3 linked regions of the Homo sapiens genome follow. The protein of the gene in region 2 interacts with the protein of the main gene of each other region in a pairwise test. Each region holds a gene or a part of one and is shown on either strand. Other genes may lie near its edges. The genes, in order: FAM200C, METTL21A and ATRIP.

Evidence for each region.
Region 1: the proteins of METTL21A (region 2) and FAM200C interact in binary tests that used the Homo sapiens proteins (3 or more experiments, as listed by UniProt).
Region 3: the proteins of METTL21A (region 2) and ATRIP interact in binary tests that used the Homo sapiens proteins (3 or more experiments, as listed by UniProt).

Annotation. Positions count from the first base shown.
Region 1 is NC_000005.10:160,397,180-160,401,335, reverse strand, and holds the start of FAM200C (protein FAM200C), read left to right. Parts: upstream 1-1,281; 5' UTR 1,282-1,697; intron 1,698-3,820; exon of another isoform or gene 3,821-3,894; intron 3,895-4,156.
Region 2 is NC_000002.12:207,618,795-207,622,445, forward strand, and holds part of METTL21A (protein N-lysine methyltransferase METTL21A), read right to left. Parts: intron 3,124-3,651; coding exon 3,012-3,123; intron 1,997-3,011; coding exon of another isoform or gene 1,947-1,996; exon of another isoform or gene 1,901-1,946; coding exon of another isoform or gene 1,847-1,900; intron 1-1,846. UniProt on the Homo sapiens protein: Protein-lysine methyltransferase that selectively trimethylates residues in heat shock protein 70 (HSP70) family members. Contributes to the in vivo trimethylation of Lys residues in HSPA1 and HSPA8.
Region 3 is NC_000003.12:48,456,724-48,460,374, forward strand, and holds part of ATRIP (ATR-interacting protein), read left to right. Parts: intron 1-535; coding exon 536-693; intron 694-2,635; coding exon 2,636-2,731; intron 2,732-3,063; coding exon 3,064-3,193; intron 3,194-3,386; coding exon 3,387-3,651. UniProt on the Homo sapiens protein: Required for checkpoint signaling after DNA damage. Required for ATR expression, possibly by stabilizing the protein.

The sequences.
Region 1 (4,156 bases), on a different chromosome or scaffold from region 2:
TCCCAGCTACTCAGGAGGCTGAGGCATGAGAATTGCTTGAACCCGGTTCAAGAAGTTACAGTGAGCTGAGATTGCGCCACTGCTCTCCAGCCTGGGCAACAGAATGAGACCCTGTCTCAAAAAAAAAAAAAAAAAAAAAAGAAAAAAACATAATGCCTAGGACATTACTCAGATTGAGCTTTGATTTTATTATCTCAATAATAGCTGCCTTTTGAGTGCGAGAATTATGTACTGTAATTGTCATAATGTTATCTCCTTCCTCAAAAGAATTTCATGGGGTAATGGATGATATGTAAGTTTTACAAAAAGCACATGGAATTAACTCCAAGTAACCTGCACAAATCCTAACCGTTGGAGTCAGGACATGAAGCTAGCTGTGGGATTCTGAAGCCTACCCCTTTCTCTAGTATTGAAGGCCCTAATTTCTTGACCAACAAGGCTGGTCTTTAGCAGTTTCTTCCATCCACAAAAAACTTCAGCAGCCCGTCAATATTTACCAGGCTCACCCTTAACACCTGAAAATGATGTATCTGGCCCACATTCGTTGACGCCCCACCACTCCTCACACACACTAGTCTTATGGAATGCTTCTAACAAGATTGTACAAAAATGAGTAAACTCATTAAGTTTATAAGAATTCTGGAAAGACCCCCAAACAGGAAAGGGCTATATTCCGGTTTCTTTCAACAACGTTTCCTAGTTTCTACTTGGGATTTTTCTCTAAAACCTCTCTAATATGGGTTTATTTCTTTGAAATCATGTTGTTGAAAGAATTTAAAATAAAAATATTTCAGATATATGATGATGACATGGAAATTCATCCCTATGCTCCCACTTACGGAAAGTGGGATCAGCTTGCATAGGCAACAGTACACAAGCTATGGAAGCTCATCCTCCACTGCTGAAATGTCTAATCTGAAATTACAATGAGCTTCCTTCTCTTTTTCTCTCATTTATTCCACATGGAACATGGCAATTATCAGGCGTTTTATCTCCAAGCTCAAAGCCCGACACAATATAAAAGTTTAAGTGCTCTGCATGTTAAAAAGAACTATGTGGAGTTTACAGCCCCTTCCATTCCTGAAATTGTACAGTTCATCCTCTCTGGCAGACACAATAAACAAACGATTTCTTGTTCCACGTACACAATCTTAAAAAAAAAATTGGGAAGGGCTAGCGCGCATGCTCAATACTCAAGCCAGCCAGCCCATCCCACAGCCCTTTGCTACTGCGCCTGCGTGTGGGAGACGCCTCTCCCAGTTTGCGGGCGGGAAGCACCCTGGAGAACCCGGATGGAACCCGGGCCTGGCTGAGGCGGAGGTTGTTGCGGATGCTTCTCTCTCCAGGCGCACCGCAGATTCCTGCCCGGGGGTTGGACCCGAGGAACCGCCGTCTCTACTGGTTCCGACGGCCAGAGGCTGGGCCCTAGGCTGAGCGGAGAGTGGGACTGGAGCCTGAAACGGGCGCCTAAAAGAAGCCCGTGCATCCCATAGGCCTGCGCCTCAGGCTTGGAGACGGGCGGGCGGAGACCGCGCTGAGTCTTTTTTTTTTTTTTCCTAGCAGCTGGCGTTCTTATCTCACCCGGGAGGCTGTAAAAATCTCCGTCCTTAACAGTAACACCATCAGGTCCTATCAGTTAAGAGCTGCTTGTTATTTGCATGCATTCTTATAATTAAATCTCCTAACAACCCTGTAAGGTAGGTACTGTTATCCCCTCTGGAGGAACTGAGGCTTGGAAAGGTCCCATCCTGTAAGTGACAAAGCCACGATCCCAGGCGTTTGCCCCTGGAGCGTCTGCCCAGCCACCAAGTTCCTGCCCCCATTCTCCTGGCTATTGATTTTAACTGTAAAATGTAATGGTTAAATGCTCTGCCTCCCCAGACACCTGCGCCTATCATGATCTTGCATACGCAGTGGCTAGAAAGAAGTTGAATTGTATTTGGTTTGGAGTTTTAGGTTTACAGCTGCACTTTGGTGTTTTCACTGCTGGAATATATATATATTAGCATTCCCTAAATATTTGTTTTGTGAGTGTTCACTTTTAACTGATTTTTCTCATTTGTAATACTTTTTCATATCTACCCTTCATAAACTTGCAAAAACATTTTACTTTGTTATATCAGATCTTTCATTAAGCATCTGAAGATAATCTCTCAAAAGAATCATGCTTAAAATGAGTGATATCTATCTTAAGATAATGCTTTTTATCTTTTTATTATGGAAAGTTTCCAAAATACATTAAAATAGAACGGTGTAATGATGTATACCCATCATCCAGCTTCAAGAGTTACCAACTTAAGGCCAGTCATTTCTTTTATCTCCACCCCGCTTTGTGCATGTTTGTGAGTGTGCTGAAGTACGTATTTCAAAGGAATCCCAGACATCTTATTTCACTTGTAAATAATTGTCTGTATCTAACAAATGAGGACTTTTTAAAAACACAACCACAATACCATTATCATGCCTGTTTAACAATATCTCCTTATCATGATGCTTTTTAATGTTTACGTTTTTTAGGATATTGTAATTCCTAAATACCACAAAAGCGCAAGTGCAAATTGTGAGGTTCTAAAACACAAGCCTCTTGGGCAGTAAGTTCATCTTTGAGGCCCTTGAAAATTCTTGCCACCTGTTCTCCCTTTTTGAGGGTTATGGAGAAGAATACTTTAAATTGATTTTCCTAAAACTGTTCAAAACAGATAAATTTTAAATTAAAATATACTTGAGAGACATAGTCAAGGTGGATAGGAATGGACTCTTAACAGATCTTGTAATGATTTCCAGTTTGTTTTGTTTTTGAGACAGAGTCTCACTCCGTCACCCAGTCTGGAGAGCGCAGTGGCATCATCTCGGCTCACTGCAACCTCTGCCTCCCAGATCAAGCGATTCTCCTGCATCAGCCTCTCCAGTAGCTGGGATCACCATGCACAGCTAATTTTTGTATTTTTAGTAGAGACGAGGTTTCGCCAAGTTGGCAGGGCCAGTCTCAAACTCCTGACCTCAGGTGATCCGCCTTCCTCGGCCTCCCAAAGTGCTGGGATTATGGACATGAGCCACCGTACCCAGCCTTTTTTTGAGACAGAGTCTGGCTGTGTCACCCAGGCTGGAGTGCAGTGGCGTGATCTCAGCTCACTGCAATGATCTCAGCTCACAGCAACCTCTGCCCCCTGGGTTCAAGCGATTCTCCTGCCTCAGCCTCCCGAGTAGATGGGACTACAGGCATGCGCCACCACACCCAGCTAATTTTTGTATTTTTAGTAGAGACAGAGTTTCACTATGTTGGCCTGGCTGGTCTGGAACTCCTGACCTCAAGTGATCTGCCCGCCTTGGCTTCCCAAAGTGCTGGGGTAGCAGGCGTGAGCCACCGTGCAGGGCCCCTCTTGTAATGATTTCTAATGTGACTAAAAACATTTTCCTTTATTCCCTCTTCCTCCCCAAATATTACATGATAAATATACATTAATAGAATACAGAAAAATAAGCATTTATGGTAATGTCATAATTTTATCGTCATTAATTAGAAGTGGTTCTAAGCAAAAGTGGTCATGTAGTCTCATTACTTGACAAAAGAAGTCTTAAGATCAGCTCTTTAAACTTCAGGTTGTCTTTTTTGATTGGCAGACATCCTCCAATTTAACAGGCTCATAACAACCTTGTAACAGCTCAGCTTATTTTATTGGAGTACACTTTACAACTAGTTCATCTTGGTAGATCCACTTGAAAGCTAATGCTTTAAGTGGATATTCTTGGCTTGTGATTTTTCTTTTAATGTCCAAAGTGGGCATTCAGATTTAAATGTGTACCTGTTACTTTATTTCAGCCACATTCTCTGGCACAGAACTTTGGAAACTTTGGGGATCACTTACTTATCTTGGAGATAGAATGTTTTCTAAGGTATATTTGAGCCTACCTGTGGATTATGCCTTTACTCGTTGCTAAAGGGAGAGAAAGAGAAAAGATATGGCTTTCATTTTAGGTTTCAACTTTCATAGGAGGCTGTCATCAACTCAGAAAATGTAGAAAATTTAAATATCTATTAAAGCATTGGGACCATTCACTTAGAAACCTAGAATATTTGTTAGCTAAGGATTGGTTTGAAGGATACGTTTTTATTCCCCTAAGCCTGACTACTTAACCAGGTTGTGTTTCAGGACTG
Region 2 (3,651 bases):
CAGACCAAGGCTGACAGTGGGTAACTGAAGCCAGGGAAAGTGATCACAGGTGAGGGGGGACTGCTACAGTTCCAAGTACCATAAGACCAGGGAGATTTTCAAACTAAGAACGAGGATTTGAGAGTCAGATTGGATTCAAATTCTAAGCACAATCCATTAGCTTTGTGACCTCAGGCAAGTTACTTACCCTCCAAGAAGCCTCCCTTTCACCACTGGAAGGGCGCTATAAGTAGGTAAGGCCTACTTACCATGCAGGGTGACTGTGAGAATGAAAGGGTGTAATGCACAGTCCTCAGAACACAGGAACTACTCAGGAATTAGCAGCTGGTTTTTAACAGGAAAGTCTCATCACCCTATATTAATATCTACATAGCACCGCTTTTTTTTTTTTTTTTTAATCTTCTTTCTTTACCTCTACCCACTAAACTCAGAACGTAAGCTTCCGGAGACACCTGCCAGCCTGTTTATTGCCCCATCCACAGTGGACCGCCAGGCTTCTGGTGGGTTCTCCCCAAATTCAGGAATAAATGACTAAGGTTACAAAAAGAGAATATACTTTAAAAAGAATAATAATTAATCTCTTCCTGACATTTCAAAATCACTACCTATTCTAGTACTCACTGATTCTATTTTGAAGAGACTAACATTTTCTTACCCTCAGGCTCCAACAGCAAAACTTCTCCAACCTAACACTTTGTAGTGACTACAAATAGTGAGTATGAAAATCATACAGTAGCAGAGAAATGCTTATGACATAATGTGAAAACATCATTTGTATAGGTGTGTGTATACGGATACACAAAACACACATACGCAGACATATATATTTACATATATATAATCATAATTACAACTATGATTAAAAATACAGATGGAGAGAAACAAAACATACCAAAATGCTAATGGTAACTCTGGTGGTATCTGAAATATCTTATTCTGACTTTCCCAACCCCAGAGAACCAGATTGCTAGATCAGAAAAAGCAGTTACTCAGAGAGTAATCAACACTCGTGGAGCACTTCCTTTGTGTCACTCAGTGAGCCAGCAGATGTTATACACGCAATCTCATTGGTTCCTCACTGTGGAGTAAATATTACTATTATGCACAATGTACAGATGGGGTAATCAATGTTTAAAGGTTAAGCAACTTGCCCAAGGTCACACGACTAGTAAGAATGAAAAGAAATGTCAAAACCAAGTATAACTAAGCCTATGCACTTTGCTACACTAACATGTCTATACACCAGCCAAGAAAGTTTTGCATGAAGCCCTGGTTCTCAGGAGGAAACAGAAGAAACCTCATTTCCCCTTATAGTAACTCTTATATCAGCAGAGAGAGAAGTTGGTGTTACAGAAAAAAATAAAACAGGCCAGGCACGGTGGCTCACTCCTGTAATCCCAGCACTTTGGGAGGCCAAGGTGGGCAGATCACCTGAGGTCAGGAGTTCGAGACCAGCCTGGCCAACATGGTAAAACCCCATCTCTACCAAAAATAAAAAATTAGCTGGGCGTGGTGGCACATGCCTGTAGTCCCAGCTACTAGGGAAACTAAGGCAGGAGAATTGCTTGAACCCGGGAGGCGGAGGTTGCAGTGAGCCGAGATCATGCCACTGCACTCCAGCCTGGGCAACAGAGTGAGACTCCATCTCAAAAAATAAATAAATAAAATAAAATAAAATAAAATAAAATAAAACAACTAACTGTGTCTAACAAGCCTGGTTTTGAGTCCCAGATCTCCAGTGATCAGGACTTCAGAAAGTAGCTTCATCTCCCAGAATCCCAGCTTTGTTTGAAAAATGAAAATTAAAAATAATACCTAACATACACGGGAATGTTCTAAGGCTCACCTGAAAAGAATAAAAGGCAGTGTACCAGCAAGGGCTTCATCGATGACTTAAGTGCTGTGGTTGAAGACGGACGGAAACCTCTGTCAATTTACACAGACTTTCAACCACCACCCCTGCCCATGCTCCCTGTCGAATTTTGGAAAGCAGCAGCTAAGCAGAAAAAGAAATAGTGAAAAAGTATTGGGTTTCTGGAAAACAGGCAGGACAAAAGAGGGGCTTTAGCTGGTCCTCAAATATCTGTAGACAATGCGATGGGTTTAGAATACTCTGGAATCCTGGATCCTTCCTACCCAAGTGTAGTCTGAGAACCAGCAGTGTCGGCATCACTACTGACATTTCTACTGCTTGTTAGAAATGCAGGTTCCCAGGCCCTGGTCCAGCCCTGCCAAATCAGAATCTGCATTTTAACAAGAGCACCAGGTGACAATATGGAAGTGATAAACATTATACATTGTATCTTGAAAGCTGGTCTACCCTTATGATTAGATAGCTTGAACTATATATGTCAGAAGTTATAGAAATGAGTCAATAGTCAATAATAAAAATAACAATGAAGCCTAAAAATGCTCTAGCTCCAAGCCTCAATTAATGTGTGTATACCAAATTTTAAAATGACAAACTTTGATATCAAGTCAGAACTGTATACTGTTCATACAATTTTAAAAATAAGAAGTCAGTACAAACTATAGTGGGGGCTAGCCCTCCCTACAAGAGAAAAACCAGCAAAGTTTCCTCAGCAATGAAGAAAAGACTATCTGCTCTATCTCCCTCACAGGGTTAAATCAGATAGTGTATGGGAAAGAAAGCCCCTGAATGTGAAAAAAACTCTATACATGGGTAAGATTATTCTCCTTGAATCAACTCACTTTAAGATCGTATTATTGGCATCACAGAATTGAAGGGGGCAGAGCAATCTCCCATGGGAAGTATAAATAACAGAGTGTGTGTGTGTGTGAGAGAGAGAGACAGAAATTAGAGAGAGAGAAATTAGCCCGTTAGCCTCACTGGAGTTAAGAACCCCAGCAGTTGGCCCACAACTCATAAGTATAAGCAAAAGATAATAACCCAGTAAGGGGAAAACCCACGAAGGGTTTTGCGCTAAGAAAACAGCAAATGCACCTCTCAATGAGTTCTGCTCACTAAGGAGTCAATGCATGACACTCACCCAGCAGGGCAGCCACTATGCCCACCAGCCCCGTGCCAGCACCCAGCTCCACGGCAGAGCGGCCCCTGAGCTCCACAGCTCCCATCTCCAGGTATGTGGAAAGAACGATGGCCTGAATGAAAACACAGTGTGATGACGATTAAGGTCAACATGTGCTTGAGTAGCTGCAGGGTTTCAGGTCAGCTACACCCACCCCTCTCCCACTTCGAGGTTCAATTCCCAGCTTAACAACACACACAGGAACTTAGCTGGTGCAGCAAGGTAACCTCCCCCTTAGAGCAAGCACAGGGTCCCACAGCAGTGCCCAGAGATGATGCCCACACTAAATGGGGTCCTGCTGGATCTGGAAAGCTTAATTTTTTTTTTTTTTTTTTTTTGAGATGGAGTCTCAGTCCATCTGTCACCCAGGCTGGAGTGCAGTGGCACAATCTCAGCTCACTGCAACCTCCACCTCCCAAGCTCAAGCGATTCTCCCACCTCAGCACCCCCAGTAACTGGGACACAGGCGTGCACCACCACACCCAGCTAATTTTTGTAGTTTTTTTGGTAGAGATGGGGTTTTGCCATGTTGGCCAAGCTGGTCTTGAACTCCTGAGCTCCTGCGTCAGCTTCCCAAAGTGCTAGGATTATAGGCGTGAGC
Region 3 (3,651 bases), on a different chromosome or scaffold from region 2:
ATGATCATGCTACTGTACTCCAGCCTGGGCAATGGAACAAGACTCTGTCTCAAAAAAAAATGTTTTGGTGGAATTGTAAATAGTGATAATAAAGAATAGTAAAGGAATTATGGCTAATATTATATTTTTGGATGATTAGAAAAATATAAAAATGAGTAAAAGAATTTTCAATAATTTGGATCAAAATCCCTGGAATTAGCCAGTAACAGTGGATCATGCCTGTAATCCCAGCATTTTGGGAGGCCAGAGTGGGTGGATCACTTGAGCTCAGCAGTTCCAGACCAGCCTGGGTAACTTAGTGAATCCCCATCTCTATAGAGAAATTAAAATTTTAAAATATTTTTAAAAAGAAAAACAAATGCCTGGAATTTTGCACTGCTCCTCTGACAAAGAATGGTAGACATATAATAGATAAAACCTTTGGTTAAAACACCTAGACATGAAAAGTTTAAAGTTTGTTAGAAATTTTGTAACCAGATATTTTGAATGGTTTTAGTAGAATCATTACTTTGCTTTCATAGTTAACTTTTTCCAGTCCTAGGAAAAACCCTTCTGTGGTTATAAAGCCAGAAGCATGTTCTCCACAATTTGGAAAAACATCTTTTCCTACAAAGGAGTCTTTTAGTGCTAACATGTCCCTTCCCCACCCCTGCCAGACGGAGTCAGGATACAAGCCTCTGGTGGGCAGAGAGGGTAAGTCCATTAGTCATCTATTGATGTATAACAAGCTACCCAAATATGTGGCTTAAAACAATTATTATTTATTTTCTCCCAATTTCTGTGATCAGCAATTCTGACAAGGCACAGAGGGGACAATCTCTGCAGGGACTGGAATCACTGAAAGCTTGTCTTAAGCTGGAGGATCTATTTCAAGGTGGCTCACTCACATGGCTGGCAGTGTAATTTCTTGCCACATGGGCCTCTGCACATGGATATGGGGTATCCTCTTAACCTGGTGGGTGGCTTCCTCTAAAGCTAGCAAATCCAGAGAGAGCGAGCCAGGCAGAAGCTATCCATTTATGGCCTAGCCTCAGAAGTCACACAGCATCCCCTCTGCCACATTGTATTTGTTAGAAGCAAATCACTGAGTCTGGGCGTCATTCAAGGGGAGAAACCAAGCTTATACCTTTTTTTTAATTTTTATTTTTTATTTTTATTTTATTATTATACTTTAAATTTTAGGGTACATGTGCACAACGTGCAGGTGTGTTACGTATGTATACATGTGCCATGTTGGTGTGTTGCACCCATTAACTCGTCATTTAGCATTAGGTATATCTCCTAATGCTATCCCTCCCCCCTCCTCCCAAGCTTATACCTTTTGAAGGGGAGTTGTGTCAAAGCATTTGTGGGCCTTTTTTTTTTTTTTTTTGAGGCGGAGTCTCACCCTGTCACCCAGGCTGGAGTGCAATGGCACGATCTCAGCTCACTGCAACTTCCGCCTCCCGGGTTCAAGTGATTCTCCTGCCTCAGACTCCCGAATAGCTGGGATTACAGGCACCTGCCATCATGCTTGTGGGCATATTTTTAAACCATCACAGCATCAATTGACCATGCCAAAAACCTAGCTAGTATGCAGGAATCTGTTTTTCTTTTCTTGTTTTTTTTTTTTTTCTTTGAGGCGGAGTCTCACTCTGTCACCAGGCTGGAGTGCAGTGGCGTGATCTCGGCTCACTGTAACCTCTGCCTCCCATGTTCAAGCGATTCTCCTGCCTCAGCCTCCCGAGTAGCTGGGACTACAGGCATGCGCCACCACACCCAGCTAATTTTTGTATTTTTAGTAGAGACAGGTTTCACCATGTTGGCCTGGATGGTCTCAATCTCATGACCTCGTGATCCACCCACTTCAGCCTCCCAAAATGCTGGGATTACAGGCATGAGCCACCGTGCCCAGCCTCTGTTTTCCTTTTGTAGTCCAGCTTTTGAGTTTTTATAACTCAGTCCAGATTGAGGGGATCTGCTGTTTTTTAGAGAGAGACAATCTAACATCAGTAGGTTTTCAGACTGCTATGTCAGTGTATCTTATAAATCGGATACATTGACCCTCTTCTTACCATCAACCTTTCAAATCCTTGGCCATCATAACACTTCTGAGAAACTGTAGCCCACTTACATTTTTGGCATCTAGCAGCTAAAGGGGCAGTGTACAGTAGTGTTACAAGCAGGCAGTAGAGCCCAGTAGCCTGGATGTGAGTCCCAGTAATGCTGTTAACTGGCTTATATGATTTGGGCAAGTCCTTTAGTCTCTGTGCCTCAGTTTCCCTATATGTAAAACAGACCTAATGATAAATCCTTGTAGGGTCACTGAGGAACAAATGGGCTGATGCGTATAGAGCTCTTAAAACACTGTCTAGCACGTAACAAGCACCATGTCAATGTTAGTGGTCACTGTTTTATCTAATTGCCTCATTTTGAGTGAGGCAAACAGCTTGATTTTCTTTTCCTTTCCTTGTATGAGTTCCTGTTTTACATAAGGAAGGTAAAAGATGCAGGGCTCTTGAGCCGCTTTGGCTCTTGTTTGTTCCAAGTTCGAAGAAGTAGAACAGCGTGTGTTTTAAACTCATTGCATGTAAAAGTTTCTAATATGCCCATGCTTCTGGGCTCAAGTTTTGATTTACATTTTATCACATTTCAGATAGTAAGCCCCACAGTCTGAGAGGTGACTCCATAAAACAAGAAGAGGCCCAGAAAAGCTTTGTTGACAGCTGGAGACAGAGATCAAACACTCAAGGTACCAGAATCCCTGCTTCTCCTGCAGGGGCCTGCATGGCTCTGAGTAATATGCAGAAGAATTGCCCAGGCCTCTGAGAACCGGTGCCCCGGGCAGTCCTTCAGAGAGTCCAGGGAAGTCAAAGTATGTGGCTTAAGCAGAAGACTTTATAAAGTGGAAAGGGCCAAGGGCAGGTATGTCCCAGAGCCTTCCGCACCCACAGGCATCTTCCTGGGGCTTAGTGGCAGCCTAGAGGACAGTTGGCATCCAAAGAATCCTTACTGTTTCCTTCTGAAAGCCACCGAAAAGATCTCCCATGTCAGAACCTTCTAGAGTCATCTTGTCTTCTGCAGGTTCCATTTTGATAAACCTGCTCCTGAAGCAGCCTTTGATCCCAGGGTCATCCCTAAGCCTTTGCCACCTCCTGAGTAGTAGTTCTGAGTCTCCTGCTGGCACCCCCCTGCAGCCACCAGGGTTTGGCAGGTAAGCATAAGACTCCTGGAAAGCTTGTTTGGGAAGGAGCTTCCTGGAAGCAAATTCCTTTCTGGCCCTGGCCAGCCTGAGAAGTCTGTGGGAAGGGCAGGCAGCCTGGAGAATTTGGCAGGCAGGCTGTTTGGGGCTCTTGACCTTATCTCCATCCCACACTTAATCTATTTTTCTTTGTGTTTGTTGCCAGTACCTTGGCTGGAATGTCAGGCCTCAGGACCACAGGTTCTTATGATGGGTCATTTTCCCTCTCAGCCCTGAGAGAAGCACAGAACCTGGCATTCACTGGACTGAATCTGGTTGCCCGGAATGAGTGCTCACGTGATGGAGACCCAGCAGAGGGAGGCAGAAGGGCCTTCCCACTCTGCCAGCTTCCTGGAGCCGTGCATTTCCTCCCCCTTGTACAGTTCTTCATCGGCTTACACTGCCAGGCCCTGCAGGACTTGGCAGCTGCT